Linked DNA regions of Homo sapiens. Changing the gene in region 1 together with any one later gene gives a genetic interaction. Each region holds a gene or a part of one and is shown in the gene's direction. Other genes may lie near its edges.

Evidence for each region.
Region 2: changes in LRP8 (region 1) and SLC7A11 are lethal when combined (synthetic lethality), as found in Homo sapiens cells (one study listed by BioGRID).

What each region holds. Positions count from the first base shown.
Region 1 is NC_000001.11:53,244,721-53,248,156, reverse strand, and holds part of LRP8 (low-density lipoprotein receptor-related protein 8 isoform 1 precursor), read left to right. Parts: intron 1-1,100; coding exon 1,101-1,139; 3' UTR 1,140-3,436. UniProt on the Homo sapiens protein: Cell surface receptor for Reelin (RELN) and apolipoprotein E (apoE)-containing ligands. LRP8 participates in transmitting the extracellular Reelin signal to intracellular signaling processes, by binding to DAB1 on its cytoplasmic tail.
Region 2 is NC_000004.12:138,218,121-138,221,953, reverse strand, and holds part of SLC7A11 (cystine/glutamate transporter), read left to right. Parts: intron 1-2,588; coding exon 2,589-2,688; intron 2,689-3,833. UniProt on the Homo sapiens protein: Heterodimer with SLC3A2, that functions as an antiporter by mediating the exchange of extracellular anionic L-cystine and intracellular L-glutamate across the cellular plasma membrane.

The sequences.
Region 1 (3,436 bases):
TTGGTTACGTTGACCTAGGATATTCTGGGCCCTATGTGTTGTTAGGTACTATGTTAAACACTCTCTGTGCATTATCTCATTTGATTCCTCAACAACCCTGTGAGGTAGGTCCTGTTACTATTCCCATTTGATAGATGATAAAACTAAGTCTCAGAGAAGTAAAGTGGCTGGCCCAAATTCACATAACTATGAGGAAAAGTACTGAAGCTGGGGAGGGTCTTTCCAAAGGAGGGTATCTGGGAAATGGAAAAGAGGCAAACAAGATTACATCAGGACTAGCTGGGGAAAGTTAGATGTGTACCCTGGAGAAGAAAACACTCAGAATGAACGGAAGGGAATTCAAACACCATCTATAAATTTCAAGGGTTGTCCTATGTAGAACTGTCTCTGAGTCTGAGATGGAATCAGGGAATGTCAGAAGATATAAACAAACAAATTTCACATTAATATAGGAAAGAATTTAAATCTGTTGTCCACAATGGAATAGACTGGTTCAGGGGTTAGTGGGCTCACCTTCCCATGGTCAGCCATTTTTGGCAGACAGGAGTCTAGCATCTACCTAATGACTGGAAAGCAGGGGTGAGGGAGAGAGGGATGGAATTTAATTAACCTGCATTGCCTCCCAACTGTGTTTAATCTGTTGGGAAGGTGCAGTATATTACCTTTCTAAATGTGATTAGCATGCTAGAGACAAGTAACCCCATAGCCTGAAATTTAACATTTGCCAAAGCTAACCCACTGAAATTGACCAAACCTAAAATCCTATAAGGGAGGATTAAGAAAATTTAGATCTGTGCAACTCTTCTTTACAAAGATACAAAACAGAATGATGAAAAAATCTACAGCTTTGGATTCATACAGACCTGGGATCAAATTTTAGTTCAGCCACTTGCTATGTGATCCAGAACAAACCCTACTTAAGCTCATTGAGTTTTGTTTCTCATCTGTAAAATAAATAGGATAAATCCTGTCTCTTAGGATAGTTTGAACATTATGTGAGCTAATACCTGTTAAAGTAACGTAAGTCTGTGATTTGTCAATACTAAATAAATAGTAACTCTTATGGATCTAATGATGAATTCTTTGGTTTGTCTCCCCAGCGAGTGGCATTAAGCCTTGAAGATGATGGACTACCCTGAGGATGGGATCACCCCCTTCGTGCCTCATGGAATTCAGTCCCATGCACTACACTCTGGATGGTGTATGACTGGATGAATGGGTTTCTATATATGGGTCTGTGTGAGTGTATGTGTGTGTGTGATTTTTTTTTTAAATTTATGTTGCGGAAAGGTAACCACAAAGTTATGATGAACTGCAAACATCCAAAGGATGTGAGAGTTTTTCTATGTATAATGTTTTATACACTTTTTAACTGGTTGCACTACCCATGAGGAATTCGTGGAATGGCTACTGCTGACTAACATGATGCACATAACCAAATGGGGGCCAATGGCACAGTACCTTACTCATCATTTAAAAACTATATTTACAGAAGATGTTTGGTTGCTGGGGGGGCTTTTTTAGGTTTTGGGGCATTTGTTTTTTGTAAATAAGATGATTATGCTTTGTGGCTATCCATCAACATAAGTAAAAAAAAAAAAAAAACACTTCAACTCCCTCCCCCATTTAGATTATTTATTAACATATTTTAAAAATCAGATGAGTTCTATAAATAATTTAGAGAAGTGAGAGTATTTATTTTTGGCATGTTTGGCCCACCACACAGACTCTGTGTGTGTATGTGTGTGTTTATATGTGTATGTGTGTGACAGAAAAATCTGTAGAGAAGAGGCACATCTATGGCTACTGTTCAAATACATAAAGATAAATTTATTTTCACACAGTCCACAAGGGGTATATCTTGTAGTTTTCAGAAAAGCCTTTGGAAATCTGGATCAGAAAATAGATACCATGGTTTGTGCAATTATGTAGTAAAAAAGGCAAATCTTTTCACCTCTGGCTATTCCTGAGACCCCAGGAAGTCAGGAAAAGCCTTTCAGCTCACCCATGGCTGCTGTGACTCCTACCAGGGCTTTCTTGGCTTTGGCGAAGGTCAGTGTACAGACATTCCATGGTACCAGAGTGCTCAGAAACTCAAGATAGGATATGCCTCACCCTCAGCTACTCCTTGTTTTAAAGTTCAGCTCTTTGAGTAACTTCTTCAATTTCTTTCAGGACACTTGGGTTGAATTCAGTAAGTTTCCTCTGAAGCACCCTGAAGGGTGCCATCCTTACAGAGCTAAGTGGAGACGTTTCCAGATCAGCCCAAGTTTACTATAGAGACTGGCCCAGGCACTGAATGTCTAGGACATGCTGTGGATGAAGATAAAGATGGTGGAATAGGTTTTATCACATCTCTTATTTCTCTTTTCCCCTTACTCTCTACCATTTCCTTTATGTGGGGAAACATTTTAAGGTAATAAATAGGTTACTTACCATCATATGTTCATATAGATGAAACTAATTTTTGGCTTAAGTCAGAACAACTGGCCAAAATTGAAGTCATATTTGAGGGGGGAAATGGCATACGCAATATTATATTATATTGGATATTTATGTTCACACAGGAATTTGGTTTACTGCTTTGTAAATAAAAGGAAAAACTCCGGGTATATGTATAGATGTTCTTCATTATAGACATCTTCTTTGCTTTTCTTGGCCTTGGGGGAGGAAGGGAGAAGTGCTCTTTTCTACTTGTGGGGTCTCCCATTGGAAACATAATCCTATAGTCCCAGAAGGATTCAGTCCCCAGTGGCTTTCCCATCCAAAGAGAAAGAGTTTGAGTTTCTTAACTCTGCTGTTCTGCCACTTACTCCCACTAGACAACCAGGGACAAGGTGCAACATGGAAGTGTTTGACTTAAGTAGGAGCAGAGGAGCTGCATCTAATCTCATCATACCTGGAACTTGACACACTTAAGCAAATGCCTTCCCATCCCTACCTGCCAGATGCCCCCAACTCAATGAAGTTGGATGTCTCACCAGCTTGATACCCTTTGAATTTTCAGTCAGACATTCTGGAGTTCTAGCATCCTGTACCTAGGACCTTCCTCTGTGTCACTCTTGGCCTCCTAAACTCTAAGAAAATAACTATATTCTGGAGCTTGGGCAGTGTGTTTTGCATAATCCAGCAATCTCCTCATGACATGCATGTGTTGATAGTCCTGAAACATTCATTGAGAGGGTAAATGCAGTTGACCTAGAATGACCAATACCAAACAGAATTTTAAGAACAGGTGGCCAACTCCTATGGAGCTTACTCACATATTACTATTCTTTTAAGAACGGAAAGTAAAATTATTTTTGACTGAAGAAAAATGATGACAGTGAAAAACATGGAAATGTACTCAAAACAAGTGACTTTTTCTGTAACCTTCCAAAGAAACTGAATTTTCCAAGGAATTAAATGATAACAGTGGCTAAGGCATAGTTTCTAA
Region 2 (3,833 bases), on another chromosome or scaffold:
TTCTGAGCTAACTCTTCAGTCTTCTGTAAGGAGTTTCTTCAGTATTTGAAAAGTGCAGAATCTCTGGGTCATTGGCTGTTCTTTAATACTAGTTTAGATTCCAAAAGATTATATGCTATCCCTTGAAACTAAGATTTATTTTCTTCTTCTTTTTGGTGTAATGTAAGATACTATAGGTAGCATTATAGACTTTATTCAATTTTTACCAGGTATTTATATATGTATATGAGGAAGGGTTTGGTTGCCCAAATGTTGCTCTATTGCAAATTCCTTGAGAGCAGAGGTCATGATATATCTTGAGGTTTTTTTAGTGGCTAAAATACAGAGACACTTTAATCAATAATCATGATATCAATGCTTAATGTGACAGGCTTATTCAGAGATCTCACACAACAGAGAAATTCCCTGAGAATATTACCGCATTTAATGTAAATTTAACATTTTAGAGACCATTATTAGCAGGTATATTTGCTCGATTGCTGTAAAATTGTGATTTTCTTCATCTCTAACATGATCACACATTTTTCACATTAATCTGAAACTCTAGTAGGAGACTTTGTTAATACAGATTGTGCTTTTATTTCTATTCTAATCATATCCTGAAAGTAGTTGTATGTTATGTATTCACTTATGAGAGTTTGTTGAACTTTCCTTTGAATATTGCCTTTAATCTTCATGAGACCTCTGTTATATAGCCAAAATATTCCTGAATTCTAGAAACAAAATGCCTCTCTTTTGTAATATTCTCAAAATGGCACTTTTGAAGATCTTTGCTTGTGACCCAGTCTTTATAGAATTTGGTTTTTCTTATGGATTATTTGGTGCTGCACTCTAAGAAATATTGTGCCTTTATGCCAAAGAGACCACAGATTATGATAAAAGAATATTCAACAGATGCTTTTATCTGAATTCCACTATTTATATTTTTCTCCTGGAAGGACACAATGATGTTTTAGTAAAATGGGCATTTCTGAATTTATCATGTCATTTAAAAAGTGAGCTATGTTTGGGAATCATTTGAGAGAAAAATTGTTTAGTATATAATTCAACATTCTCCATTTTTGGTCTTCATACTCACACATATTATATTTATATATAAGTTATGCCTGGGCAATGAATGCAGGAAAAACTGAGATTTGACTTGGAAGAGAGAGTGTCTCATACACATCATCCACCCCCTGTCCCCCTTCTGTTTATTTACATGAAGTTTTATTTTAAAACAAAGTCTCACTTCCCATTTGGGTAATCTCATTTGCTATTTTCTTTGGGTAATAGAAACATTTTTTCTGCTTAAGCTTGAATATTGACTGACTAAAGTAAATCTGAATTTCTAACTTTTAAAACTATTCAAAAGATATAAAAGAAAAAGCTCCAATGTGATTCATAAAATAGAGAAAAAGGTGAAGTGTTCAATTCACATGCTGCTGCAAAATTTGTTGAAACCTATTTATTTTAGAGTTCATTATAATATCTTTTCAATATTTCTAGGAAAAAAAACATGTCATTCTCTAGGACAGGGTCACAGAGTGAGTGGACTTTCTCTGTAAAGGACAAGAGAGTAAATATTTTCAATTTTTCAAGCTAGCTGTATGGTCTCAACTCTGCTATTATAGGTTGAAATCAGCCATAGGCAATACTTCATGAATGGGTAATACTTCATGAATGGGCATTTTTAACTTATAGATAAAGAAAACTTTATCTATAAGAAAGGCTTGCAGCCAGACGCAGTGGCTCACACCTGTAATCCTAACACTTTGGGAGGCCGAGGCGGGCGGATCACAAGATCAGGAGTTCAAGACCAGCCTGGCCAACATGGTGAAACCCCATCTCTACTAAAAATATGAAAATTAGTTGGGCATGATGGCGCGCTCCTGTAATCCCAGCTACTCAGGAGGCTGAGGCTGGAGAATCACTTGAACCCAGGAGGCGGAGGTTGCAGTGAGCCAAGATTGTGCCACTGCACTCCAGCCTGGGCCACAGAGTGAGACTCCATCTTGAAAAAAATAAAAAAAGAAAGGCTTGCAGTTTGGGTTGACACACATGGTCTTCAGGATTTTCCAACTTCTCTTCTAGGAGGTAGGCATCTAATGAACAACATGGGATAAACAGAAAGCAGAAAGGTAAATTGTGTAGGAAAGGAGTCCTGGGATTTATTTCCATCTCCTCATTAAGGGTAGAACCTTGGATACCTCTCCGCATTTTCTTGCCAAGCAAAACATTATCTTTTTAAGAATTCTATCTTTTAAGAATTCTATCATATTCATAAAGATTATAATTTACAGAAAACCCTTTAGTCTTCTTTTATGGTCACAATAGAGGCATACTCAAACAGAGGATTATTTTTCAATGCCATTTTCATCTTTGTTATAAATTTATTAAAAGAGAAATATGAAATAGTGTTAATGATCAATATACTTTTGGGACCCCTTCTATAGAATGGGTACAGTATTGATAAAGATGGTAATCAACAGAGAGTAAGAAATCTAGACTTACAACAGTATGTTTCTCCGCACCCCCATGTTTCTGGTTAAGAGTGAATAAGAACCAATTCTTTGAAAAATCCTAAAATCAGTCTATTCTAATTACAGGTCAAACGCAGAACTTTAAAGACGCCTTTTCAGGAAGAGATTCAAGTATTACGCGGTTGCCACTGGCTTTTTATTATGGAATGTATGCATATGCTGGCTGGTAAGTTGATAGCTCCAGATCTGGTGGTTTGCGTAGTTCATTAATCCCATTATGCACTCAGATTAAGTGCCAAGCAAGGTGCCAGGCAAATGTGAATAGCCATAATCCAGTGTGATAGGCTTTACTTGAAATGAGAAATAAGGTATTATCCCCTCCACCAGGCCAATTACTTTGCACATGACAACTAAACATAACAGGTTTCCAGTCAAGGTGACTGCTAGATTTAGCCTGATGTCATAAAAAACAAACAAATGCTGGGTCTTAAGATCCAATAAAAATTACTTATAAGTATGTACCAGTAAGGACATAATAGTGCCGTAAGGTACTAAAGAATAATACTTCGCTTGTCAAAAGGCCTTTCAGCTAAAGCTCCAAGGGTGTTTACAAATAGTGATTAATTGATTTTTTTTTCCAGCTTCTCGTGAGAGAAGTAACTCAGATGTAGAAATAAGTATGACATTCCCAGAAGGTAAATGGTAATCTAAAGGCAGAGAAAGAGAAACCAAGATAATGCAGTCAACTCTTCTAGACAGTCTATTACATTTAAAAGGACCTTACATGTTCCTTAAAATGTCCCCAACATCTGAAAATTTAAAAAAGTGAAGATGATTAAAATCATGATGCCACAGATATATTTCCTTTGATGTATGTCCACCTGTGATACCTACCTTTCTAGTTAAGGCATTAAAACTTTGTATTTGTACCTTATTTGTTCAGATACTTGAAAAACAGTAATCATGTAATCATGGATAAGAGTGGGACTTTCTCTTCAGTAAATTTTATTGACCTTGTAAGATTTAGTTGAGATGATGGTTGCAAGAAAGCCTACAAGGTATTATTTAATTATCAAAATCATTGTAGTAAGATTAAATTTCATTGTTTTGGGATAAATCATGGCAATGTTTATTTTTTAATTATCTATAAATCTCATTGTTATACAGCTTTAGCTGTGAGAATGATCTATGAGCCTGGAAGTAATATTAGGAAACCACACTAGCTAAAAAATTATATGAATGCATTTCCAACACAAATATAATTCCTTTTGTTTTTTTAGTTTTTAAGATCTTACCTTCTAGCCGATGCATGGAATATGGATATATTTCAAAATGAATGGAGCGTTTACCCTATTAATCTCATTGAATTAT